Linked DNA regions of Homo sapiens. The protein of the gene in region 3 purifies or fractionates together with the protein of the main gene of each other region. This does not show direct contact. Each region holds a gene or a part of one and is shown on either strand. Other genes may lie near its edges.

Region 1 (3,500 bases), on a different chromosome or scaffold from region 3:
GGGATGCAGAACTCATGGAAAGGTCTTATAAAGACACCAGACACTGGGAGAATCTCTGCCACAATTCCAAATTATGTCCTCTTTTAGAAAGTCCCCACTTTTTAAGAAGTAAAATACTCATTAAATCCCCTAGCTCGGTGGACTGTTGACGATGTCTCCCTATCTAACTGTAGCAGTGTGCCAAGCACAGGGCTCCAGAGATAGGCAGGTGGGGCCGCCTCCTCCGGCCTCACCCACCTCTGCTCCCTCCAGCCCACCCACGCCTCCAGCTGCACAGTTGACTCACCATCCAAACAGCTGCTTCCCCCAGAAAGTAGACCAGGGCTCGACGGCAATTCTTGTGGCAAATTTAATAGAAGAATATGAGACTCACCCTTACTTCCCACACATAAAACACTGCAGGCACTCCAAATCCTTACAGACATATGCACTTCGGAATCAACTCAGGCATGCACAGCATCCCTGTGCTGGAGTTTATTTTAAAAAACAACGCCCCAGTTATCACAGTTTCTTTTTTTGTTCACCATTTTCCATAACAAAAGAAGCTACACAAAATTTGGGGGGAGATACTCTCTTTGGAGACTGACACATTTGCAGAGGGGTCATGAATAATGATTCCAAAGCTCCTATTTAACTTCTGAATCAGGCAAAGAATAAGTGACAATATAAGAATGAATTTTGTTTACAGCAATATCATAATACAGCATTGAATCATTACAGTGCAGTGGTTGTAATTAAGTCCACAATAAAATATTCTTAGCCCGAACACCAGACCAACTAAAATCACCAACTGCTCACGAACCAAAATGATCAGTGCAAGCAGTTGCGGTCTCAATAGTGAAAACCAAAATGGGTAAGGCTTTTCTGGCAGTGAGTCTCTGACATGAACGGCTCCCTCTCTGCTCAGCGAGGACTTGGCCGCCCTCACTTGGAGTCTTGGTCTTTCTTTTCATCTAAAAGGGCGGAGTGGATCCCCAGCTTTTTCAGTTCTTCCACCAAGTCCCCATTCTGGTGCATCTGCAGAAGAATGTCACAGCCCCCTACAAACTCGCCATTGAGGTACACTTGCGGGATGGTGGGCCAGTTGGAATAGTCTTTAATGCCTATGGAGAAAGAACATTTATTTGTTATTTAAATGGTAAAAGCTGAACCATTCATGACTAAATATGTAATTTTGACCCACTAGTAGCAGACAACCCACTGTCCCTCCCTGGCTTCCCCCAATCTTGAGAACACTGTGCTTGCCACTAAGAGCATGAGTTTTTGTGTCAAAGAGACCAGTGGTTAGGCCCTGACTCTTCCAATTACAAACCGTCAGCCCTCAGACAAGTCACCTGACCTCTCATCCTGTTTCCACCCTCATCTCCCAAGGTTTTTTTTTTTGTGAGAATTAGGTAAGCAAGATTCTCAGTAAAATACCTGATACATTGCGGACCTTAGATTAATGGCAGAGGACTGGACTGGGTAATGCAAGTCACATAAGATACATAAGGCCAAAATTCTCCATCTACCAGTCAAGCTTCAAGCGAAACAAAACTTGAAGAAATGTCACAACCAACTTCATTTCCAAATGGATCCATCACGGTAATTCATGGCCAACTCGGGCAATCCCACCTGTGCACTTTTCATGACTGTGACTGTCTAAGTTGGTGCAGGCCGTCAGTCACTTCTCCTCGAGATGATGAGTTGTTGAGTTTTTTTTTTTTTTAATTTTTAACAATTACTTTTACCCAGGGAAAAATCCCTGTCCCACAGCTATGGGTTGTCAGTTCCCATCTATCCAGCCACTGTGATGGGCTCTCTGTGGAGTGGATGATGAGGCTCTGTGCAGAACCCGAAGTGACTGGTGAGTCTAATGAAGGCCCAGAGCTCAGCAAGGTCCCTGTCCAGGGCTGAGGGGTGGGGGAGTGAGACCCGCTCTGCTCTTAAGCGCTCACAGCAGCCAAGAAACCAACCAGCATGCATGTGATCAGTCCTGTGTGCAAATGGCTCTGAGGACACACATGAGATGAGGGACACTCTGTGACAGCGCAGCTGTGCAACTACTCTGTTCAATTCTGAGCCACAAGGATGATGACTGTAACAAAATGGTAAGAAAGAAATGTGGCTTCAATCTTAAGACATAAAAGATTACTCTTAACATTCCTCTTCATCAGTCTACTTCCTTTTCTACTTGTATGTTGAGATGACTGTGCTTTCAAAAACATAGTCGGCCATTAAAAAGCCTGTATTGGTCATGTTAAAAACGAAGATGGTCAAAGCATGGCATATAATAACTAACACTTATGTGACACTTTTATATTTACATAGATAGATATTTTTAAATGGCCAAAATGAGCATATGGATAAACAAAACGGAAAAGTCAACAGATTGTTCAAGTCCAGTACAGTTTACACAAATCGATTTTTATGTAAACAAACTAAAAATACAAAAACTTGCTCTTGATACCCTATAATTTATTATCAAACATTTTCCAAATAAAATTACTGATTTCAGTTATATCACAAGTCCCAATATACTATTTATTTTTTTCTTAAAAGTTATTGCCTTATTAAAAAAACTGACTTTGCTCTAAATGACAGCCCTAAAGAAAGCCCCTGAACCAAGGGCTTTATCTTCCTTCTCCAGACTTCACATATTAAGAAAGGGTTACATTGCTCTAGGCCTCCAAAAGGACACCTCTCAGCCACTCTGGGTGCTAGTAAAGAAACAACAGCTAGCTCTTTGGCAGCTGCCAATAAAGGGTAAATTCCATTAATCATCAAAATGTCTTTATAATGCCAAATATCTAGACATAGTAGAATACCCTGATGAATTCAAGTTGTTCATCATGGTGATGTTTGATGCTCCATCAACAAAAACAACTAGCATAATTTGTGTGTTTTTTTACTTTCTTCAAACTCTGTCCTCAAATACAAAGTCTATCAAAACTCACTTTTTACAATGATGCCGATTACAAAACTTTTACCTTTATGATGACTGAGAGCTGGGTGCGAGAATTAAGAAATATTTAAAGTAAACGTGAGCTTCTTTTCATTATCTTCAACTTTCTTAAATACCTTTTATACAAATGAATCATTTATGTGCATGAACGACCTGTTTTGTTTCAATGAATAATATATTGTGTGAAGCTTTCCATGATAATCAATTTTTACTGATTTATTTTGATGGATGTCTATAATTTCTGAAACACACCAAAAATGGAAATGTTTGCTGCCTGAGAACTACCCAAAACTACATGTTTTACCCAAAAAATACATGTTTTTAAAGTAAAATTGCTTTTCATCAATCACTTTTATAGTATCACACTCAATCGAAGCATTGGGCTTGCCTCATTGATTAAACTTTATGTTGCTGTTGATCATATGTCCTGACTACGAGAGAAGGGGAGACCCCCAGAATCCTTACCACCAAAATTATCAAAACAAGCAGGCTTTCAGACATTCTCAACACCCAACACACACAGCCACATGCAAGTGATACTAACTTCTCATGAGCC
Region 2 (8,297 bases), on a different chromosome or scaffold from region 3:
TAATAAAATTTTCACAAACAAGTTAGTAGTACTTATTTATTAACAAATACATTTTGGAGAGTTCCAACAGTTTAAGGTGTCCTTCTCTTTTAAACAACTTACAAACTATATAATTATCTTTGCACTGAGGCTATAAATTTCCATTTATATAACATATTTTTCAGATAGGGAAAGTTAATATTGAATAATCAATGAGCAAGGAGAAGCAAGCTTTAAGAACTTCCCAACTCTTAGGAATCATGAAAATAATTTTTCATGATTATTTTAGTGTCCCTGAAATTATCAAATGCATCATTTCCATTAAAACATATATGAGTATAAAGGGAAAATATGAAGTTTATTCAAAAGGAGCAAAAAAGGGAGATCAAATGTATGAAAAGTTCTTTATATCCTAAAAATGAACAACAGAAAGAACAAGTTGTAATTGGTAATACAAATCAAAAGATCACTTTCCCTACCAGTTTTGAGACTGCAAATATTTTAAAAATTAGAAATAGTTTTAATATTGTATTATTGTTCTATGTATTATATATTATAGTTTGCTTCATAGCAGATGCCCCCTCCCCCTTAATTAATCTAAAACCTTAAGGATAAATAGTTCCATGTGATTCATAATTGTTGAATGAATACAACTTTTCCTAAAGTTGTTAGGTTTCATAGATTATTCCTGCCACTTCTAGGATTTTATGAATCTATACTTGTCACAGTTTTCTGAAAATAAAGACAATAATAGTAGAGAACATATATCAAGTCCTTATTTATACATATTAAAAGGCAATCTAGAAGAACAGTTAAGAGCCACTGTCTGAGTTCAAATACTGCCGCTTCACTTACTAGCTACATGACCCTGGGCGAGTTACTTCTCAGTGTCTCCATTTACTTATAAAATGGGATAAGTACCTACCTCATAAGGATTAAATAATAATTGTTTAGCTCAGTGCCTGGAACACAGTTAATGCTACGTAAGGGTTAGTTATTATTATTACTATGTGCCATGTATGAGTTTTACTTTACACACATTACTTCATTCTCATTTAACCTATTTTTCATATGAGGATATTGAGGTTTACAATGGCTAAGCAACTTGCCTTAGTGAAAAAAAGCTAGTAAGTGGAAGGGCCAATATTGAAGCCCAGGTTCTCTGATAGCTATGCCAGTGTATCCTCAAACTAGTCTCCGTGGATATATCTGTAGAGATTCACAAGTTTTTCCTCATTATTTTTAATTTAAATCATTCTAGGGAAAATTTTCAAATGAAAAACATTTTCATAGAGTAGACTTTAATTTCTGAAATCATCAAACTGGTATATGCAAATCCCTGGCATTCACGGGAATATTCTCATAGATCTAGGATTTTTTTTTTTTTCTTACAAAGCAGTCAACTCGTAAAACTTCAAACATAACATGGAGCTTTCATTCTTCAAGAATGAGAGAATAGGCCGGCTGCTATGGCTGACACCTGTAATCTCAGCACTTTGGGAGGCGAAGGTGACAGGATCGCTTGAGCCCAGGAGTTCAAGACCAGCCTGGACAACAAAGTGAGATCCTGTCTCAACAAAAAATACAAAAAATTTGCCAGATGTGGTGATGCAGATCTATAGTCCCAGCTACTCAGGAGGCTGAGCTGTGAGGATTGCTTGAGTCCTGGGAGGTTGAGGCTGCAGTAAGCCATGATCACACCACTGCAATCCAACCTGGGTGACACAGCAAGACCCTGTCTCATATTGAAAAAAAAAAAAAAAGAATGAGAGCAACAGCTATTTTTCAAAATCCTTATTCCCCATATTCATTTTAGATACCAAGTTCGGGACCTTTTGGCTAGTCTACTTTAAGAAGTAAAAATATTTTTTAAACGACAATGACATTAAAACATGTTACTTCTTTGTAACAACTGGTCTTGATTTTAAAGAAAACAACAACACATTAAAAAAACAAACATTTAAAAGTATTCCCTTAGTAAACAGTACTAGTACTCACATTCAGCACCAGTCTCTCATCTTTACTCCAATTCTGTATCTACAAGAGCCTACAAGAATTTTTCACTTGAACAACTCAAATAATAAGCCCCAAGTAAACTCATTTTCCCTAGACCACTTTTCCCCAAACAAGATCCCTCTTCCACATCTCTAATTCCTCCAATGATATTATCATTCTCTCAGTCATCCAGGCTCATGGCCAGAATAATCTTTGACTCCTATCTGTCTCTTATTCTCTATACTCAAAACCATATGTCTTTCTTCAAATGAATTTCATTCATAGGCCCAACTCCATTCCCACTTATCCACCTCCTTCAGGTGTCATCACCCTACTCCTTCCCTCCAACCCTATCACTGTCTAAACCATCACCTGTTTATCCTTCTTAAAGGACCAATTCGATCATGCTTGTCCTCTGCTTTATAACCTCCATGAATTGCCATTACTCAACCTACAGAATAAAATCCAAATGTTGAATTTAGAACTTTTGATCATGTAAGACTGATCATTTGAGAATTTACAGTGAATTCTCCCCTTTTATAAAAGTGTGTAACCACATAATATCCTGTATGTTTCTTAGCCATTTCCTATTACTGTTATTAGTGGTGTGGAGGCTTCTACAGAAATAAGATTTCTTTTATATATCCTTACCAGATACTAAGTAGATAACCAATTACCGAGTTAGATACTACCAGTTAACAGTGCATATATCCTGAGTACCTGATATGTGATCATTTATTCAACAGATATTTGCTGAATAATGAATCTGTGCTGAAGATACTAATGTGACTTCCATCTACTAAGAGATTTCCATGTGCCAGACAACACTAGTTTAGATGCATTATCTCACTTAATACAAGTCATCCTCAGATAGTATTATCAATCTCATTTTTAGTATGAGGCAATTATATCTCTAGTATAGTCTACTTTAAAAAGTAGAGCCAAAATCAGAACTGAGTAAAAAGTTTGTACTCTTTAACACTGTATTCTACTCCTATAGAAATATTACTCTAAAGAAAGGAGCTGTCATCTATTTGGCATGGTGGACACACAAATATAATACTTTGTCCTAAATACTATGAAGGATGCAATTAATGTCTTATTTGAGCACAAAATGATGGGCCAAACTCTAGGGTAAAAAGATGGAGAGTCAGAGATATCTGGAGATGACATGTTTAAGAATGAATCACAGTTACAAAATAAAGAAACATTCCCAAAAAAGGGGATAACCTGTGCAAAGGTAGAAAAGCACAAATTTCATGACTTACTCAGAAAACAGCAAACAGTTCAGTTTTCTAGAAAGTAAGTGTGATAAGGGAGACTGGTAGAAAGGGCAAGCATAGTCAGATCATGAACAGTTTAGCCAACGAGTTTAGATTTTGGCCAATAACTAAGAGAAAGCCATTGTGTAATTTTAAGCAAGAGGGAATGATCACATTTGTGCTTTAGAAACGCTGCTCTGTACTGACAAATGGACTGGAAGAGCTACAGCCTAGAAGCAGGGACACCATTTTAGGTTACTGAAAGAGTTCAGGCAAGAGACTAACCTAGAACAGTGGCGAGGGACAGAAAAAGATTGATTCAAAAGATATAGAGGAAACAGAACTACAGGACTTGGTATCCAATTAGGTTGGGGGTTTGTAGGAAGGTGAGGGAAAGGAAAGAATCTAGGTAAATCCAAGGTTTCTCTCTTGAGCTCTGTCTGGGTGGATGGAAGCACCATTAACTAAACAGGGAGGAGGAGCAAAAACAAGGTAAATATAAAGAAAATGTCAGATGGTATTGGTACATACTTCTAGTATACCCAAAAGATGTCTAGTAAACAAATAGGTATACCTAGATCTCAGGAGAAATCCAAGGTAAAAATACAAAACTGGAAGATAATGACAAGGAGAGTGAATGAAACTTCCTAGAGAAATGTGTGCAAAAGGAGACAGCCAAAGATCAAGTTGTGGAGACCACCAATATTTAAAACAGGCAGACAGAAGTATGAAAACTAGGAGAGAGTAGTGATACAGAAGCTTAGAAAGGAGAAAGTTTCATGAAGAAGGGAGTTGTCAATGCACTAAATGTACCAAAGAGATGAGGATTTGAAAATTGAGTAACTGGTGACTTGAAGAAGAGAGGTAGCAGAGGAATGGCTGGTAAAGAAAGCTAAACTAGACAGGGTTGAGTGAATGGCAGGGAAGAAAATAGAGGCAGAAAGTTTGAGAAGAGTAACAACTAGAGAAGAAAAGAGCACAGAAGAGCAACATTTTTAGAATGGTAGAGATTTTAGTATTTTTATAGGATGAGAAAGGGACTAGTGGAAAATGAGATTTTAAAATTATACCTCTGTACTTAAAATTAGTATATGGAAAAGTTACCCATGATACAAAAAACAAGTTGCAGAATATGTATGCTATAATATCACTTAAAATTCTGACTCCTTTCAACGGCCCTCAAGGCGTTTAGGTCTTTATGATCTGGCCCATACCTACCTTTAACTTCATGGTATGCCATTTTCCCCTTCATTCATTATGTCCCAGCAACACTGGCCATTCTTTTTGGTCCTTCAACACACAAGCCTGTTTTTGCCTCAGGAATTCTGCACTTGCTGATACTTCTGCCAGAATGCTCTTCTCCTGATCAAAGGCTAGTTCCCTCAAGTCATTCATATCTCAGTTCAAACATCCTTCCTCAGAGAGGTCTGCCTACCTTTATGTAATATTGCATATCTCTTCACCTCAGCCCCCAAAAGTTACCAGCAATACCTTGTGTTAGCAACTACCATTATGTGAAATTCTTATTTACTTGTCCATTCCCCTCCTAGAAATGTAAGCTCTGTAACAGAGATTTCATCTTCCACATATGCAACATATTGTTCACCACATATCCCTGCTGCTTAAAATAATACCGGGCACATAGTAGACACTCTGCTGTTGAATGAAAATCTGTACACACACACATACACACACACACACAGAGATGTATTTACATGAAAAATACTAAGAAAGGTCAGAAAGGATCTAATACTTGAACTTATTTATATGGGGGCAGCATGAGGCTAGGAAGAGAGGCATACAATAACCATTCACTGTTTCCTTCATCTCTATTCAAACTTTCTGCAGAAGTCATGTCTTTTGTAATTGAAAAAAAAATTAATAATGATCATACGAGCCTAGGACAGTCAATCTATTCTGCTTCTCTATTTTCGTTTGGTGGGCTATAATGATCTAATCACCTGTGGAACAAGCGACTACTCTGATTGCAGGTTGATCCTTGAGTTGTTTTGGTATGGCAGTTCAAAGTTAAAATCTTAAATCTTGGAGCTGGAAAGAGCTTAGGGATCATCTAATCCAACCCCCTAGTTTTATAGATGAGGAAGAAGAGACTTATAGCAATTTAATTAATAAAAAAATAGGGCATTGATGAAAAAGTTTCAAAGACTATATGATTAAGAACAATTTAAAAGACTAATCTACTATATGTTATATGTAATTTAAATAATAAAAGCCTCCTAAAAGTTACTCTCACATATAACCTACAATCTTCTGGTGAAAACTATTACTCAAAGTAAACGTATTTCCCTAAGCATACTATTTGACCAATGAACTCTACAGTTAAAGCATCATAATATAACAAAGGATATGGAATACGTGTATGTATGTGTGTGTATATATATATGGAGTGAAAATATTATTCACTCTTGATACCCTAACACTGTTAGGTGTGCAGACTAACTGAAGTTAGCAGGCACTTCTTTCCACAGGGTAGACATACAATACATCAAGTGTATCATACATTTAAGGATTCATTATACTTTGATTCAAATTTCTGTATTAATTTCTATAATGTATATTTAATGGGATAAAAATCAAATGTTAGGTTAAGAAATGCACTATACTATGTCATTTATAGAAATGTCTTAACTATTTATCTCTCTAGATATACTGTAGTTTACCAGGAATACAACAAATTTTGTCCAAATTTCTGAATAATACCACCTTATGTTTAACACACTGTCTCACCTGACCCTCACAAACAAACCCAGAGACAGCAGATATTATTACTTCCATTTAGTATATAAAAATGAGGCTCAGAGATTAAGGAGCTTGACCACAGTCATTCAGACAAGTCCTAGAACCTAGATCCTCTACTTCTTAGCCATTGTTCTTTCCAACGCCCAGATTACTTCACATTTACCATTTACTAAAATGTAAATATAATTTCCTTCCTTCCTTATCAGTGAAGGTGAAGAGTACCAAAATCCTAGCATTCCTATCCTATTCTACCTGAACTTTTAGTACACCACATTAGTCATTCATCTTAACACTGATGAGAAAGATGTGAAAGTCACCTTAACTGAGAATTGTGCTTATCAATAATTCTGTATGAAATCCTACCAAATAGTCAATTACTTTCTTAATCATAATAAAGGTACCCACTTATTTAGAAAGCTCTCTACAAACAATAACCAAAACAGTGTTAAAATGGTCTTTCTAGTTGGAAATAAAATCTGAAACCAAATCTTAGCCCTACTACTAACTGTTCAACACTCAGTGCATTTCTTAACTTAGTATCATCCTCATCCAAAAATGAGGATACCACCACCTGCTTCTGTGAGTTGCTGGGAAGATTAGATGGTACAATAGGTGTAAAGCAATTAGCTCTTAGAAAATGGCCAGATCTGCTAACATGGTGAAACCCTGTCTCTACTAAAAATACAAAAAAAATTTAGCCAGGTGTGGCGGCACGCGCATGTAGTCCCAGCTACTTGGGAGGCTGAGGCAGGAGAATCACTTGAACCCAGGAGGCGGAGGTTGCAGTGACCAGAGATTGTGCCACTGCACTCCAGCCTAGCGACAGAGCTAGACTCTGTCTAAAAAAAAAAAAAAAGAAAAGAAAAAGGCCAGATCTTATAGTTGTTAGAGACACAGATGCAGATAGCTACTGCTGATAGGTAATGTCATTTAATTTATGTGAACTTTTACTTGTTTAACTTCTAGTGTGCCCTTATTTTTTTTCTCCCAAATATTTGGGGCAGGACACAATACACTCATGCTCCCAGGGAATAAACTAAAGTGAGAGCTGAATTTCATTCTTGTTTCAACCCCTGTAATTAAGCAACAGAGTAAAAATCTATTATTTGACTGTCTCGGAATTGGCTATATCTAAATCTAAGCTTACATTATTTTGACTCCTACTCTTTATCTGAGTTGGCTAACTGCATCTTTCACTCTATTTTGAAATAAAACTAATAAGCCAATTTTATAAATACAAATAAAAATACAGTGAATTCATCTTGGGTGAAAAGAGTAGGAAGCCTTCAGGGAGAATGCAGAGAGGGACCTAACACTGAGAAATTATGTATTCAGAAGTCCATTTTGTCCTAATTTACTTTCTCTTTTAATCTTCACAAACATTCTAGTCAATAGAGGCCTCATCTTATAGATTAGGAAAGTTCAGAAGCTTTAACTCTGACTCTCTCCCCTTTGCTCAAGGTGCTTAACCACTCTAACCTACAAGAAGGCTCTTGCTCAACTCAAGGCCTTAATCTCTGCTCAGAATGGTCTACTGTTTCTCCACAAGGCTGTCTCCTTCTGCTTCAGGTCTCACCTCAAATAGTACCTCCTCCGTTCAATCTAAAGTAGTGTACACCTACGTCAGTGTAGTCTGGTAAATTTTTTTAAAAAAGGAAAAAAAATAAAGTTGTGTACGCCAATTACTCATCTTTATTTCCTTCAGAGAACACAAAATGGTCTGTATTCATCTTCTTTTTGTGTTTAAGGGCAGAGATACTTTGATTATGACAATGAACACACCTGCCTACAGTCATTTAGCAAGTAAATAGTAGGACCTGGAAACCAATCCAAGGAAATCTGACTGCAAGCTCCTGCACTGCCCTACCACTACTTTTTGTACAGATGATAGGGAAAGTGCTTTGGGCTGGGAAATAAATTAAGAGGTGTGCCTTGCTGCTTTTTTATATTCATTCACTATAAAGAAATTATACATACAGTTAATACCACAAAATATTTAATCCGAATTTATGCATACAGTTAATATTATAAAATAATTCGAATTTCAAGAGCTATTACATTGCCTATTAGAATCACAACTCAATTTGGAAAAACACTACATTTATAATGTGCCTTATCCTAATACTTCAAATTTGTTAAGTAACTGGCATCTGCGCAAATAGTCTTTCAGGGCTAAAAGAGAATTGTCACATATACAAATGAGTTTTACTAACAAGCTTATAATATTCTTTTAAAAATTGTTTTGAATTTCACAATACATCATGCAGAAAACTTTTAAAACCAGCCATATGACATCATTTC
Region 3 (8,297 bases):
GAGACCATGTCTCTAAAAAAAGATTGTTTTATGGGGAAAGAAGTCCCTATTTGATAAATGGTGCTGGGATAGTTGGCAGCTATGTGCAGAACAATGAAACTGGACCCCTATTTGTCACCACATACAAAAATTAACTCGAGATGGATTAAAGATTTAAATGTAAGACCTCAAACTGTAAGAATCCTAGAAGAAAACCTCGGAAACACTCTTCTGGACATTGGTCTTGGGAAATAATTTATGACTAAGTCCTCAAAAGCAACTGCAACAACAACAACAACAACAAATTGACAAATGGGACTTAATTAAACTAAAAAGCTTTTGTAGAGCAAAAGAAACGCTCAACAGAGTAAACATACAACCTACAGGATGGGAGAAAATATTTGCAAACTACACATCTGAGAAAAGTCTCATATCCAGAATCTATAAGGAACTTAAACAACTCAACAAGCAAACAACAACCGCACTAAAAAATGGACAACAGACATGAAGAGACACTTCTCAAAAGAAGACATATAAGCGGCCAACAAACATATTAAAAAATGCTCCACATCACGAATTGGTAGATAAATGCAAATTAAACTCATAATGAGAGACCATGTCACATCAGTCAGAATGGCTATTATTAAAAAGTTAAAAAACAACAGATGCTGGTGAGGCTGTAGAGAAGAGGGAATGCGTATACACTGCTAGTGGGAATGTATCTTAGTTCAGCCACTGTGGAAAACAGTTTGGAGATTTCTCAAAGTACTTAAAACAGAACTATCATTTGACCCAGCAATCCTGTTACTGGTATATACCCAAAAGAAAACTACTCATTTTTCACACCAGAAAGACACATGCGCTTGCATGTTCACTGCAGCACTATTCACAATAGCAAAGACATGGAATCAACCTAGGTGCTCATCAATGGTGGACTGGATAAAGAAAATGTGGTACATATATACCATGGAATACTATGCAACCATAAAAATAATGAAATCATGTCCTTTGCTGCAACATGGATGCAGCTGGAGGCCATTATTCTAAGTGAACTAATGCAGGAACAGAAAACCAAATATTGCATATTCTCACATATAATTTTCTAATTCTATAGAGTGAAACACTGGATACTCAAGAACATAAAGAAGGCAACAATACAAACTGGGTACGACTGTCAGGGAGGGAAGAAGGGGATGCAAGGGTTGAAAAACTAACTTTTAGGTACTATGCTCATTACCTGGGTGATGGGATTATTCGTATCCCAAATCTCAGCATCACACATATACCCAGGTAACAAACCTGCACGTGTACTCCCTGAATCTAAAATAAAACTTCGGATTTTAAAATGTACTGGGTGTCTGCAATGCGTAAATGACATCATTTTCTCTCTAGTTTCTAAAAAGAGTTGAACTTTCTATGCTATAAAAGTTATCCAAACCCTCATTGAGATAATATTCAGCAAGGGCAAAACCACAGGGAAAAAAGTGATCTCAGCGTTAGGGGTTTCCAGCTTCCTAAAGAAATTGCTTTTAGAAGCAGATCAATTTGAGTACAAGTTCTAGCTACACCTCTGTAGCAAACAGAATAATGGCCTCAAAGATAATCAGAATCCAATACCCAGAATCTGTGAATAGGTTTGGTTACACGGTGAAGAATTTTGGTAGCAGACAGAATTAAGGTGGCTAATCAGATGACCTTAAAATAGGGAGGTTATCCAGGATTATGGGGTGGGTCAATGTAACCACAAGGGTCCTTTGAAAGGGAAGACAGGGTTGGAAGACAGACCAGACCCGATGTTGCTGGCTTTGAAGATGGAGGAAGGGGGCAAGCCAAGGAATGTGGGCAGCCTCTAGAAGCTAAAAGAGAGAAGGAAATGTATGTGGCCTCCAGAAGGAACACAGCCCTGCTAACTCCCTGGTTCTAGCTCAGTGAGACCCCTTCCAGACTCCTGACCTCCAAACCTGTAAAATGTGTTAAGCCACCAAATTTGTGGTAATATGTTACAGCAGCAATAGGAAACAAATGCAACCACTTACTAGGTGTTGGATGTTGGTCAAGTTACCCTTTTTGTTTCCTTCCCTGTAAACAGAAAAATTACAGTACCTGTCACATGAGATTGCTGAGTAAACGGGACAATTTATGCCTTTAGGATAGTGATAAACAGTATTTATTTTTAGTTTGATGGAATTATCTGTAAGCTTTTGACAGCATTACATATTAGAATGTTTTTTCATTACACATATTTTTCTCATATTCTAGTCATCACTACATAACCCTACCTTGTTTAAAGAAATAGACACAAACACATATGCATACAAGTGGTTAAGATAAATATGTGTATATCTGTGTATGTGTACACATTGAGCAAGTGCATCAATAACTTGAGCCTAACTCTGGGATGTATAAGTTAATTTGTGTAAGGGTTTCTGGTGAAGAACAGAAAACTGTGTCTTGGGGAAAGCGAGGAGGAGCAAAGTGTAAGTTGGAGAAACTGGTCCCTAATATGACCTTGCAGACTTCTGAAGGACTTTATCTGTAGAAAGAGGGTTTACAAGGAAAAGTTGAAAGACCAGTTTTCTCAAGGGACTCTGAGGCCGTTGGAAACATAAACAGAACTATTTTTGTAGTCAGGTAACAGTGTGACAGAACACGGGGGAAGATAATGCCCCTCATTTCTGTACAGTACAAGGTAAGATGGGACACTGTGCTCCTTGGCACCTGCAGGCTTTACAGCTTTCGACACAAGTGTGTGCACATCAGCCTGCCAGGGGTGTTGGTAGTGAAGCACATACAAGTAGCTTCAAAGGCAGAGCAAAAGAAACAAGGGCGTGTCAGATGAGGAGCTAAGCCCAAGGACCACTCCTGTTAATTCTGCCTATTAAACAGTAGGTGTTGAGCAATAGTAACTGTATTCATGTTAGGATTACATTTTGGCTATCAGCAGACTTTTGACTACCTCGACTACACGGGAAATAGCTGACAAACTTAAAACAAAAGCCTCTTTTAACAACATCATGAAATAACAACCATAAAGCCCATCTCTTCTACTTCAAGGGGTGGTTTGACTTTATCCAAACCTATTTAGAATTGTGTTTACATGGACATAATAGACAAGAAGAAAACCTTCTAAAAGAAGAAATAATAAAAGCAAAAGAATGACTCTCTCTCTCTCACACACACACACACACATATACAAAAACAACACACAACTCAAAACTTTTGTTTCTGGTAATTTGATAAATCAGAAATGCCAAAACTCTACAGCTATAAAACACCTAAAAAGGTAAAACAAAATCAAACATCTTCTAAATCAGAGATAGAACCTTTACGAAAGTAAATAATGATAAACTGAAGACAGTCCAGTGAGGTGAACACAAAGTGAAATGGCTACACTTATTGCGTCTTTTTTTTTTTTTTTGAACAGAGACAAAAAAAAATTAGCCACCACACACAGCTAAGTTTTTGTATTTTCAGTAGACACGGGATTTCACCATGTTGACCAGGAGGGTCCTTTTTTTTTTCAGACAGAGTCTCACTCTGTCCCCCAGGCTGGAGTGCAGTGGCACGATCTCAGCTCATCGCAACCTCCACTTCCAGGGTTCAAGTGATTCTTGTGCCTCAGCCTCCCGAGTAGATGGGATTACAGGCACCCACCAATACGCTGAGCTAATTTTTGTATTTTTAATAGAGATAGGGTTTCGCCATGTTGGCCAGGCTTGTATCGAACTCCTGACCTCAAGTGATCTGCCTGCTTTGGTCTCCCAAAGTATTGCGATTACAGGCATAAGCCATGGTGCAAAGCCTTCTTGTGTCTTTCTTGCCTAGATCGTAGGATACAGAGCTTTCAGGACAGCAGGGAGATGACAGTCTCTTAAACTCAAGCTAAACAGAAAGCGCAGGAGAAGCCAGGACTCAGGGAGGCTCACATACTGAGAAAAGAAAGTGAACTGGAAGATTTTTGTTGTTTTTTGAAACAAGGGTCTTGCTCTGTTGCCCAGTCTTGAGTGTAGTGGCAGAATCATGGCTCACAGTAGTCTTGATCTCCTGGACTCAAACCATCTTCCTGCCTCAGCCTCCTCAGCAGCTGGGACTACAGCCACACAACACCATGCCCAGCTAATTTTATTTTTTGTAGAGATGGGGGTCTCACTATGTTGCCCAGGCTGGTCTTAAACTCCTGAACTCAAGTGATCCTCTTGCCTCCCAAAGTGCTGGGATTATGGGTGTGAGCCACCGCACCCAGCTGAAAGATTTAAAACATAGATAAAAACCACCTGGGGGATTTTGTTAAAATGCAGATTCTGAGTAGTTCTAGGTGGGACTTGTGATTCTTGCATTTTTAACAAGCTCCCAGGTGATGCTTATGATGCTGTTCCAAATAGCAAGGAACTAGAAGAAAGACAGTTAAGGAAGAAAAAGTATCTACTTTAACCTTGGTTCTGAGTGAAGATGTGAAAAAAAGAAGCCCCTCTGAGATTCTGAAGCCACTGACTGACCCACACCCGTGTTTAGGCCTAACTACACACTAGCTGCATCTTCCAAAAATCCCTAAGCATCTTTTTTTTTTTTCTTTTTTTTTGAGATGGAGGCTTGCTCTGTCACCCAGGCTGGAGTGCAGTGGTGTGATCTCAGCTCACTGCAACCTCCACCTCCCGGGATCAAGCGATTCTCCTGCCTCAGCCTCCCAATAGCTGGGATTACAGGCATGTGCCACCATGCCCAGTTAATTTTTGTATTTTTAGTAGAGATGGGGTTTCACCATGTAGGCCAGGCTGGTCTTGAACACCTGACCTCAGGTGACCCACCCGCCTTGGCCTCCCAAAGTGCTGGGATTACAGGCATGAGCCACCGTGCCCAGCCAGCCTAATCATTTTTCATCATCTCTTTTTGCTTAATTACTTTTGGCTTTGCAAGTTTTTTTTAGGCTGGGCACAGTGGCTCACACCTATAATTCCAGCACTTTGGGAGGCCAAATTAGGAAGATTACTTGAGGTCAGGAGTTCCAGACCAGCCTAGCCAATAAGGTGGAACCCCATCTCTACCAAAAATACAAAAAATTAGCTGGGCGTGGTGGTGGGCACCTGTAATCCCAGCTACTTGGGAGGCTGAGGCAAGACAATCGCTTGAACCAGGGCAGCAGAGGTTGCAGTGAGTGAGATCACGCCACTACACTCCAGCCAGGGCAACAGAGCAAGACTCTGTATAAAAAATAAAAAAAAAATAAAAAAAAGAAAAGAAAAGAAAAGAAAAAGAAAAATTAGGCCAAAAAAAAGAAAGAAAAACACGGAAATTCAGAAATAACAAACCTAAAACTCAATAAAAAGGCCAAATAGCTGGCCGGGCATTGTGGCTCACACCTGTAATCCTAGCAATTTGGGAGGCTGAGGCAGGTGGATCACCTGAGGTCAGGGGTTCAAGACCAGCCAGGCCAATCTGGTGAAACTGCGTCTCTACTTGAAATACAAAAATTAGCTGGGTGTGGTGGAGGGTGCCTGTAATCCCAGCTACTCAGGAGGCTGAGGCAGGAGAATCACTTGAACCCAGGAGGCAGAGTTTGCAGTGAGCCAAGACTGTGCCACTGCACTCCAGCCTGGGCGACAGAGTGAGATTCCGTCTCAAAAAAAAAAAAAAAAAGGCCAAATAGCAGAATAAATACAATTGAAAAGAGAATTTATAATCTGGAATAAAGTTGCAAAGAAATTATACAGAAAAACGCATAGAGACAAATGAATAAAAATAATGAAAGATTAGCTGGGCATGACTGCATGACGGTGGTGCCTATAGTCTTAGCTACTTGGCAGAAGGCTGAGGCGGGAGTATGGCTTGTGTCCTGGAGATCAAGGGTGTAATGAGCTATGACTGCACTACTGCTCTCTATCCTGGTGACAGGACAAGACTCTGTCTCTCAGAAAAAAGAAAAAAGTGTTCCCAGAAGTAAAGTGGGAGATAAGAATACAGAGAAAATGCTTTAACATACTGACTATACAAAAGTCTTTATGTTTATCAAAATCAAAATCTTTATAGGTTTTATCAAAATCAAAATCCCACCCAAAACACACATACCTGTGCATGCATGTGCACACACACACAGACCCACGAGTCTGAACAGAGGAATGTAATTTTATCAGTAATTATAAGGGTAAAGAGACTATTAGTCTGCAAAACAACAAAAACCCCCATACAAACAAACCGGAAACAAGCCATATGCTGTTTATGTGAGATGCACCATTTGCATGTTTAAAAAAAAAACCACGGAAAATGGAAAAATAAGATAATAAGAAAAAAATGAATAAAAACATAATTTACAATGTAAAAATAACTTTCAATATAGTCTTCATTTTTTAATTGATAAATATTATATACATTTATGGTGTACAGCATGTTTTCAAATATGTATATATTGTGAAATAGCTAAATCAAGCTAATATATGCCTTAACTCACATATCTATTATTTGTGATGAGAAAATTTAAAATCTACTTTCAGCAATTTTCAAGTATACAATACACTGATATTAACTATAGTCACCATGTTGTACAATAAATATCCTTTGCATAACTTATAACAAAGAAGATCAACAATAAACAAAGGTTGGTGCTCTGAAAAGACTGAAAGTGTTCCAGCCTGGCCAACATGGTGAAACCTCGTCTCTACTAAAAACACAAAAATTAGCCAGACATGGTGGTGCACGCCTGTAATTCCAGCTATGAGGCTGAGGCAGGAGAATCACTAGAACCCGGGAGGTGGAGGTTGCAGTGAGCCAAGATCGCACCACTGCGCTCCAGCCTGGGCGACAGAGCAAGACTTTGTCTCAAAAAAAAAAAAAAAAAAAAAAAAAAAAGACAAAAAAAGACTGAAAGTGTTGTAAAAGCTTTGGTAAGGCTACTATAAAAAAACAAGAGAAAGCAAAATAGATAATATGAGAAAAAGAGAGTACATATTATATGGAGAGCAGAAAATTTTAAAAAAATACCAGAAACTTTATGCCTATATATTGAAACAATACAAAATGGAAACCTTTCCAGAAAAAGTTAACTTACCAAAACTGACTTAAGAGGAAACCTGATAAATATAATAATAACCATTATAGAAGTTAAACAAGTAATTTAAAGTCTTCCCTCGAAGAGAAGAACAGGTCTAGACAGTTTTGCAGGTGAGTTGTAACAAACCCTCAAGGAACAAATAATTCCAATCTTAAACAAAATCTAACAAAGAAGGGAAAAGAGTGAGTAGAATCCCCAGTACATTATATGAGGCTAGAATAACCTTAATATTAAAACCAGGGAAGGCTGGGCGCGGTGGCTCACACCTGTAATGCCAGCACTTTGGGAGGCCAAGGCAGGCATATCACGAGGTCAGAAGTTTGAGATCAGCCTGGCCAATATGGTGAAACCCTGTCTCTACTAAAAATACAAAAATTAGCTGGGAGTGGTGGCGTGTGCCTGTAATCCCAGCTACTCCGGAGGCTGAGGCAGAAGAATAACTTGAACCCGGGAGGCAGGGGTTTCAGTGTATAATAGAAGAAAATTACAGGCCAATTTCTAAACAAAATATAAGCACAACAAATACAACATTATATTTAAAAATATAATCACTATGATCCTTTGGAATATTTTCTAGGAATGCAAGTGATTCACTATCAGAAAAATCTGTAATTTACCACCTCAACAGATTAAAGCAGAAAATGATAAACACCTCAGTAAGACGAAGAACACCTCAGTAAGACAAAGAAAAATCAATTAAGTAAACTTCAAGATTTATTCATCATTAAAAAACAAATACAAATACATAAACAAAAACAAAACAAAATCCCAAAACTCTACATAGAAACAGACTTCCTTAACCCAAAAAGGGTATAACTGTAGCTAATACCATATTTTTTTTTTCATGTTCCATGAAATTTTATTTCACAAAGGCTTGGACTCTGAAGACCCACAGTTATGGATCATTAAATCCTGTAAGTAAATGTAAATCCAAAATAAAGAGTTTTAACAAAAACATAAGACGGAGATTTTTTGGTTTAAAAGAACAGAATTATTTGGGAGATAGCTAGAACTCTTCCCTGAGGATTCGTTTATAAAACATGCCTTAGAAGTTATTAGGAGATGGTGACTTAAAAAAAAATGTAGCAATTTTATCTAAATGACTGCAATATCACACCTTAATGATAAAAAGAAATGCATTCCCTTTATAATCATAAACAAGATAAGTATGCTTGCTGTCAACACTTCTAGTCAACATGGTGCTGGAAATCTGAGCAAAGAAAGAAAAAAGATATAAGGATTAGACAGGGAGGGTGGTGGGGGGCACGGTGGCTCT
Region 4 (8,297 bases), on a different chromosome or scaffold from region 3:
ACGTGTTTTTTAAGAGCAGGGATCTTGCTCTGTTTCCCAGGCTGGTTTGATCCCCCTCCTCAGCCTCTCGCATTGCGGGGTTACAGGTGTGAGCCATCTCATTCAGGTGAGAATAATTATTAGAAATAGGTTGGGCGCGGTGGCTCACACCTGTAATCCCAGCATGTTGGGAGGCCAAGGCGGGCAGACCACTTGAGGTCAGGAGTTCAAGACCAGCCTGGCCGACATGGTGAAACTGTCTCTACTAAAAATACAAAAATTAGCTGGGCGTAGTAGTGAGCACTTGTAGTCCCAGCCACTCAGGAGGCTGAGACAGAATTGCTTGAACCCGGGAGGTGGAGGTTGCAGTGAGTCGAGATTGCACCGCTGCACTCCAGCCTGGGCAACAGAGTGAGATCTGTCTCAAAAAAGAAAATTAGTGTCCCTGTGACCAAGTTGAAGATTCCCCTAACTGCTCGTAACTCTCTCCCTCCCTCTTAGATTATCACGGTCATAACATACAGAAATGTCCTTGCTTTTTTTTTTTTTAATATTTTACCATTTTTATGCGTTCTGACAATGTCTTGTTACCTATTTGAATAATACCTGTTTAGGATAATACTGTATCATGTGTATCTTTTGTTTCACGTTATGTGACCCATATCTTTGTTACATGCCACTGTAGGCCCTTATATTGGTAAGGTTTTTTTTTTTTTTTTTTTTTTTTTTTTTTTTTTTTTAATTGAACGATTAGTCCGCACTTTATCCATTCTCTGTCGATACACCTCCGGGTGAGTTGAGTTTGGGACTGTCAGGGTTCGTGCTGACATTTTTGTCTGTGAGTGCTGGGGCCGCAGTGTAAGGTGTGGACGATAGAGACCAAGAGGTGAATGGATTTCCAATCTTCAGCATTTTTTTCTTTTTTTTCCGACAGTCTTGCTCTGTCACCCAGGCTGGAGTGCAGTGGCGTGATCTCGGCCCACTGCAGCCTCCACTTCCCGGGTTCAAGCGATTCTCCTGCCTCAGCCTCCCAAGTATCTGGGACTACAGGCACCTGCCACCACATCAGGCTAATTTTTGGCCAGGCTGGTCTCGAACTCCTGACCTCAGGTGATCCGCCCACCCAGGCCTCCCAAAGTGCTGGGATTACAGACGTAAGCCACCACGCCCGGCCTCTTCAGCCTTTCTAAAGAATGCCAAGTGCTTTTCCAAAGTTATTCCACTTTGTACTCCCTGTAGCAGTGTATGAGAGTTCCCGGTAATATTAGGCTTTTTAAGTTTTCAGCAATTCGGTAGGCATGTAATGGGATTTAACTGTAGTGTGAATTTCTTGGTATACTGTGAAGGCTTTTGAGGATTCTGTGAAGGAAAGAAGCCCTTTTGTTTAAGAGTTGTCTCTTAAACAAGGGGAATTTAAACTGTAATTGTATTATAGTTATTTGTGAACAAGTGTAAAGAAAAGGTTTCCAACATTGAAGCTTTAGTTAAGATAAAGATCATTAAAATGGAAAGGACCTTACCAGAAATCAGTTTTCTGGAATGTGCAAGACTTTGGAAGATGCAATATTTAATTTTTCTTTAATAATCTTTATTACATGAGAGTATTTTCACTATGTGGCTGAATAATGTTAGCCAGATACTTTTCCTGCAACTCATCTAACTTAGATGACTTTTAATCTAGACATGCACACCACAGAGCGTGGCGATGGAACAGTAACCGGGCTTGTGAGAGGGCTCTGCAGTATAAACTAGGAGACAAGATCCATGGATTCACCGTAAACCAGGTATGGGTCGTCCTCGGCACCTCCTTATAAATCCACATACATTGCAGGTGCGGCTTCTGGCCTATGTACGGAGCCCTTCAGGGCGGAGACTAGCGTTTTTGTCCTTGTGTCCCAAGGCCCTGGCCCAGCTCCTGCTGTGTGGCAGCTACTCGGCTGAACAGAGCTTGTGAGTGAAATGAGCCCCAGTCCCTTCCTGGAATCCCGCAAAGCCTGGTTCTTGTGAGATTTTAGAGAGTAACACTTCCAGCTGGGTCTCTGTAATCAGACACACTAGCGTTTCTGCAGCCAAACCTGATGTTTCACTGAGCATGAGCATGAAGACTCACTGCCCTGATCTGTTTAGTCAGGTTTTGCCATCAAATAGCTTGCTCTAAACGTCCGCAGAACCTTTCAGTTTTCTGAGCCATTCGGGTTTCAGAATGATAAAGAAGCAATTGTGGACCTGTACTTACTTGGGTCTGTATTAAAATAGATTCATTTGGTTTTTGTTTTGTTATTTTGCCTAAACCTTTTGCATTGTTTCTATTTAGCATGGTAACTGAAAATGACACGCTTCATGTATTTGGCCAGCTGTTGGCTTTGTGCTATGCTTGATGTTATAGCAAACGTGAAAGACAAACAGCTTACTGTCTAGAAAGACTGCTGCGGCTGTGACCGGAGGCACATGGTGGACGCCACGCGGAGGGCCAAGGACAAGGGCAGGAGGAGGAGTGGGAGCTGCTGCTGCTGGGGGCAGAGGGAAGAGCTCCTGGAGAGGGTGGTGTGAGAACGTGGCTGCCTTCGGTCAGGGCTCCAGCAAGGGAGCCAGGGCAGTGACTAGGGTGCGCCAGACAAGGTCCAGGCATGGGACTCATGAAAAGACTTGGAGCGTTTGTGAAATCCTGCAAAGGCCAGGCAAAGACACTTGGGTTTATGGTACAGGTTACTGTTAATAAGGGCCTCACCCACAGCGGTAGATTCTCCTCCTTTATTTCTCAAATTTTATAGAAACGTATTTACTTTTGAGACTGGGACTCACCCTGTCGCCCAGGCTGGAGTGTGGTGGTATGATCTTGGCTCACTGCAGCCTCGAACTCCTGGGCTCAAGCGATCCTCTTGCCAAGTAGCTGGGACAAGGTGCCACCACGCCTGGCTAATTGTGTGTGTGTGTGTGTGTGTGTGTGTGTGTGTGTGTGTGTGTGTGTGTGTAGATGGAAACTTTGTTGCCTAGACTGGTCTCAAACTCCTGGGTTCAAGCAATCCTTTTGCTTGTGTATTAGTCTAGTCTCACACTGCTATGAAGAAATACCCAAGACTGGGTAATTTATAAAGTATGAGCTAAAAAGTGAAGAGGTTTAATTGACTCACAGTTCTGCATGGCTGGGGAGGCCTCAGGAAACACAATCGTGGTGGAAGGCATCTCTTCACAGGGCGGCAGGGGAGAGAATGAGGATCAAGTGAAGGGGGAAGCCCCTTATAAAACCGTCAGCTCTCATGAGAACGTGCTCACTGTCACGAGAATAACATGGAGGAAACCGCCCTCTTGATTCAATTACCTCCCACCAGGTCCCTCCCACAACATGTGGGGATTATGGAAACTACAATTCAAGATGAGATTTGGGTGGGGACACAGCCAAACCATATCACCTTGGCCTTCCAAAGTGCTGGGATTATAGGTGTGAGCCACTGTGTCCAGCCATAGAAACTTACGATAAGTCATGATTCTTGTTTGAGAAATAGCTACCATGAAAGCTATTATTATTAAAGCTATATATTATTAGAAAGCAAACATCTCACTGTATCTGCTGACTTCAAAAGCATTGATCATCTGTTACAAAGTACAGTGAGCTTGGAAACAGAAGTAATTTCGCGGCGGTAGATGATGCAGGTCATAGTGGTCTGCTTTATGCATGACTGTTGCGTGGCAGGCTCCCTAGATTGGGCTGAGGAGACCCGAGGTCTGACCTTGGCCAGCGACTTACTGTGTGCGCTTGGCCAGGTGACTCATGGCACCTGGCAGGAGGGGGTGGTGAGTGGTGTGGTGATCACAGGGACGTGGTGTGTGATTGAGGGAGAGGGCCGGCTGGCATGACTGGAAGAGAAGACAGTTTCTTTCATACCGAGGAGTATGGTCACTTACCAGGAGGCTTACCTAAAGTAGGAGATGACCTTCCACGCCGCCCCAGGAGTGGGGAGTCTTTCGTCTGTCTTGTGGGCATTTCTATCCTCCCGGCCCCTCCAGCTGTTCTGGAAGCCACAGCTTTGTGCTTCTAGCTACCACCGAGAACCCATCCTAAACTAAGAGAAGCAAAGGCTGATCCTAGAGCCTCTCCCTGCTGTCGCAGGCTAGCCCACTCTAGCATTTCCCCTCCTTGCAGGCCCGTTCTGCGCACTACAGGAGATGATATGCACAGAAACAGACACACAGCCAACGTTGGAAGGGGTGCTGTGTTACTGAGGCGCAGCACACAAAAGCAGGAGACACTCAGCAGACATTGGAAGGGGCGCTGTGTTACTGAGGCACAGCACACAAAAGCAGGAGACACTCAGCAGACATTGGAAAGGGCGCTCTGTTACTTAGGTGCAGCATGGTACCATGGGAAGGGCAGACACCAGGGTGAATCCTGGCTCTGTGATTTAGGCAGCTTATTTCATCACCCTGAGCCTCGGTTTTTTCGTCTGTAAATGAGTATGAGAATACCTCCCTCACAGGATTATATGTGACATGATTAGAAAATGCCTAGCCAAAAAAAGAATAAAAAATTTAAAAAATAAAAAAATCTAAAATACCTAGCCAGTAGTAAGCGCGTGCGCTCTCGCGCTCGCTCGCTCGCTCGCTCTCTCTCTCTTTCTATACACACACACACATATTCTCATCTGCCTTTTTTAGGTCTGTCTTTCCTTGTTTGTAGGATAAGGGACCTGGACAAGATGGTTCTCTTCTCTCCAGCTCTGAAATACTGCCTTCCCGGCATCATCTAATTTCAGGCAGAAAAGCCAGTTTTCTCAGTGTGTCGAACATAACCATTTCAAAGGCCATTTTGTCTAAGTTTAACTGGTCGTGTTTTTCTTGTTAACTCAGGTGACATCTGTTCCCGAGCTGTTCCTGACTGCAGTGAAGCTCACCCATGATGACACAGGAGCCAGGTATTTACACCTGGCCAGAGAAGACACGAATAATCTGTTCAGGTGTGTGGTGCATTGTAAGAACATGGTCTTGAATGTTTTTATTTAAATCAGGAATGTCCATTCTTTTGGCTTCCCTGTGCCACAATGGAAGAAGAACAACTGTCTTAGGCCACGCATAAAATACACTAACACTAAGGACAGCTGATGAGCTAAAAATAATAAATAAAGGACCCCTCAATGTTTTAAGAAAGTGTATGAATTTGTGTTGGGCTGCATTTCAAGCCATCCTGAGCATGCGGGCTGCAGGCTGCGGGTTGGACAAGCTTGATTTAAAACATGGCTATACATTACGTGGTTTAAAATATCATCTCACTAGTATTTTTATTGACAGAGCATCTTGAAAAATAAGGAAAAGTTTACACTGACTTATAATCTCATCAAAATACAATTTTACAGTCTGAGTCAATGATTTACATTATAGTTGGAAAACCCTGTGCTGGAGGATTGTGGTGTCAGAATGATGATTTCTAGTAGCCTGAGGTGATGATGCATCTGGGAACTGTGTCCGCAGCACTAAGCTGAACCTTTTGCGTTCTGGTCATTCTCCTTCCCTAGCGTGCAGTTCCGTACTACTCCCATGGACAGTACTGGTGTTCCTCACATTCTTGAGCATACCGTCCTTTGTGGGTCTCAGAAATATCCGTGCAGAGACCCTTTCTTCAAAATGTTGAACCGGTCCCTCTCCACGTTCATGAACGCCTTCACAGGTAAGACCAGCATCCTGAACAGAAACTGCTTTTGGGTTTGCCAGGCACACCCACTGGAATTCAGTTAGTTTCTGAGAAGGAATGAGGGGAGTGGGCAATTCATGTTCTAGAAAAATTTTTACCTCTCTCTAGTTGAAGGACATTAGAAATTTAATCCTTCAGGAAAGCCACATGGTAGCGAGATTGTAAAAACTAGCGTTTTAAGAAAACATATGTGAACTTTTCCCAGAAAAGTTCAAAACAATTTTCTCTTGGAGATATCGCTACAATGCCAGAGTTACTACTAATGTTGATGTTTGACTTTTAGTAAGACTGACGATAGTGGATAGGGTGACGATGAACAGTGCATTCTGTGGGGGAGTGACATTGAAGAGCGGGTTAAATCCATGCTGTTACAGAATGAGGTCATCTTTGTAGATGTATGAAAGTCTCTGGAGAAACTTGAGAGAGTTTAGATATTCGCTGAAGAAAGCCCTGGTGCCCGTCGAGTGCAGATCCTGAGACGGGATGGGAAAGCCGGCACTTGGGGTTATGAGCTGGGACAGCTGCTGAGGCCAGGGACCAGAGCATGGGGCCACTGCCCCATCCCAAGAATAGCTACAGCTTACTGTCCTAGGACAAAGGGGGAATGAGTCTTGAGAGTCAATAATTTTAGTAGAAATCTGTTATATTTTACAATTTCACTTTTCATTTGTACCCAGCTAGTGATTATACTCTGTATCCATTTTCCACACAAAATCCCAAGGACTTTCAGAATCTCCTCTCGGTGTATTTGGATGCCACCTTTTTCCCATGTTTACGCGAGCTGGATTTCTGGTATGTCATGAATGATTAACTAGTTGATACAGACTTTAGTATTTGAGTCACTATCAGCTTATAATGATTTGTCCTCAGGCAGGAAGGATGGCGGCTGGAACATGAGAATCCGAGCGACCCCCAGACGCCCTTGGTCTTTAAAGGAGTCGTCTTTAATGAGATGAAGGGAGCGTTTGTAAGTTTTCTTCCTTTTTTATGTTGTGTTCAGCTTACCTTTCCCATGTACAATATCATGATATAGACACATCTGGAAGATTTTATTTAATATTCTCATTATAGGTGATACATTCTTGAATTAGCTGGGGTCAGTGCTGTGAGCAGAAGTCGGGGTAGCAGGGCCAGGCTGCTGTTCTTCCCAGCAGGTCTCAGACCATGTCTGGGGACCCCTGGTATGTGATCTGCAGCAAGTCTGTGAGATAAAAGCTATTTTCATACCACTACCAAGACAGTGTCTTTTCATTCATTCTTGCCCAAGTACACGGTGTACTTTCTAGAGGCTGCATGGCAAGGTGTGTGACACACAGCGAGCTGCATACAGAGCAAATGGGGGAGTCCAGCTTCACCTCTGAGCCAGACGCTACAGAGATTTGCAAAAAAGGCAACACAGCACCACTCTAATCAGTTTTTTACTTTGTTATGAGAAGTATTTTTCAAAAATATTTATATCAACATGTAATGATGGCTTACCTTAATGAATAAGTATTTTTTAAATGTCTCAGCTTTAATTTAGAATATAGAAAAATTATATAAACACACACAGGCACCTACACAGGCAAAAACGCCCACATAATCAAAAGCTGTTTGGGTCCTCATTAAAACGCATTTATGCCTAGTGTTCCATTATTGGCACCCTAAGCTTGTGGGAGTTATTTATGTCCTACAGCTCAAGGTCATCGCCAAGGTCTGATTTTTTACAAAAAAATTGCAACCTCAGGCATAAATGGGTTAATTTTTCAGAGTGTAAAGGATTCTTGAGACCATTTTGGATTAAGAGCTGCTGTCCTGGGCCCATGTCTTCATGTCCCTTTGTGACTTGGACAACCTGTCTGTCCTGGTGTCCCTGAGGCTCATGGGTGGCCTGCTCTCTGATTCCCGTAGCTCCTCTCGGCTGGTGAACTATTTCTTACCTTTTCATTCTCAATTTGGTGGTCTTTTCTTCCAAGGAGTCTTCTTGAACTCAAGTTGGGGTGACAGCTTCTCCCCACTTCCCTCACGGCTGGTGGGCAGACCGACTGATCCATCCCGATTTACAGCCCTCAGCTATGCGTTTGTTGCACCACACATCAAAAAATCCATTGTTCTTCTCAATCCTTGGGTCCTGTGCGTGGGTGATGAATGATTGAATACCGTGTTAAACAATGCCTGCGTGGGTGTTTTTTTTTTTTTTTTAAACCATTAGAACAGCTTTATTTGCAAAGTATTACAGGTGTATGCACCAGAATGTGATCAATTGGCTATATTGTAAGTAATGTAACGTGTGTATTATTTTACATGTATACTTATGATTTATTTATTTTACGTTTCAAGACAGACAATGAGAGGATATTCTCCCAGCACCTTCAGAACAGACTTCTTCCTGACCACACGTACTCAGTGGTCTCCGGGGGTGACCCACTGTGCATCCCGGAGCTTACATGGGAGCAGCTTAAGCAGTTTCATGCCACTCACTATCACCCAAGCAATGCTAGGTAATATTTTGTTGGAAAAGTTTGATGGTGGATTGTGAAAAGTTGACTTGTTTGTGTTCTTAACAGTTTATGGCATGGCTTCTCTCACATTTAGCAATGCTTAAGAAATATCTAAGTCTAGGTAAGATTCTTGGCCTAAGTTTGCCTATCTTACT

What was found.
Region 1: the proteins of SDHAF4 (region 3) and GLRX5 purify together in Homo sapiens (affinity purification with mass spectrometry, with the first as the bait; one large-scale study listed by BioGRID). This does not show direct contact.
Region 2: the proteins of SDHAF4 (region 3) and LEMD3 fractionate together in Homo sapiens (co-fractionation; one large-scale study listed by BioGRID). This does not show direct contact.
Region 4: the proteins of SDHAF4 (region 3) and PITRM1 purify together in Homo sapiens (affinity purification with mass spectrometry, with the first as the bait; one large-scale study listed by BioGRID). This does not show direct contact.

Annotation. Positions count from the first base shown.
Region 1 is NC_000014.9:95,541,550-95,545,049, reverse strand, and holds the end of GLRX5 (glutaredoxin-related protein 5, mitochondrial precursor), read right to left. Parts: intron 1,104-3,500; coding exon 925-1,103; 3' UTR 336-924; downstream 1-335.
Region 2 is NC_000012.12:65,171,286-65,179,582, reverse strand, and holds part of LEMD3 (inner nuclear membrane protein Man1), read right to left. Parts: intron 1-8,297.
Region 3 is NC_000006.12:70,570,581-70,578,877, reverse strand, and holds part of SDHAF4 (succinate dehydrogenase assembly factor 4, mitochondrial precursor), read right to left. Parts: intron 1-8,297. UniProt on the Homo sapiens protein: Plays an essential role in the assembly of succinate dehydrogenase (SDH), an enzyme complex (also referred to as respiratory complex II) that is a component of both the tricarboxylic acid (TCA) cycle and the mitochondrial electron transport chain, and which couples the oxidation of succinate to fumarate with the reduction of ubiquinone (coenzyme Q) to ubiquinol.
Region 4 is NC_000010.11:3,163,570-3,171,866, reverse strand, and holds part of PITRM1 (presequence protease, mitochondrial isoform 2 precursor), read left to right. Parts: intron 1-1,660; coding exon 1,661-1,763; intron 1,764-4,824; coding exon 4,825-4,931; intron 4,932-5,486; coding exon 5,487-5,638; intron 5,639-6,339; coding exon 6,340-6,454; intron 6,455-6,532; coding exon 6,533-6,629; intron 6,630-7,981; coding exon 7,982-8,142; intron 8,143-8,297. UniProt on the Homo sapiens protein: Metalloendopeptidase of the mitochondrial matrix that functions in peptide cleavage and degradation rather than in protein processing. Has an ATP-independent activity. Specifically cleaves peptides in the range of 5 to 65 residues.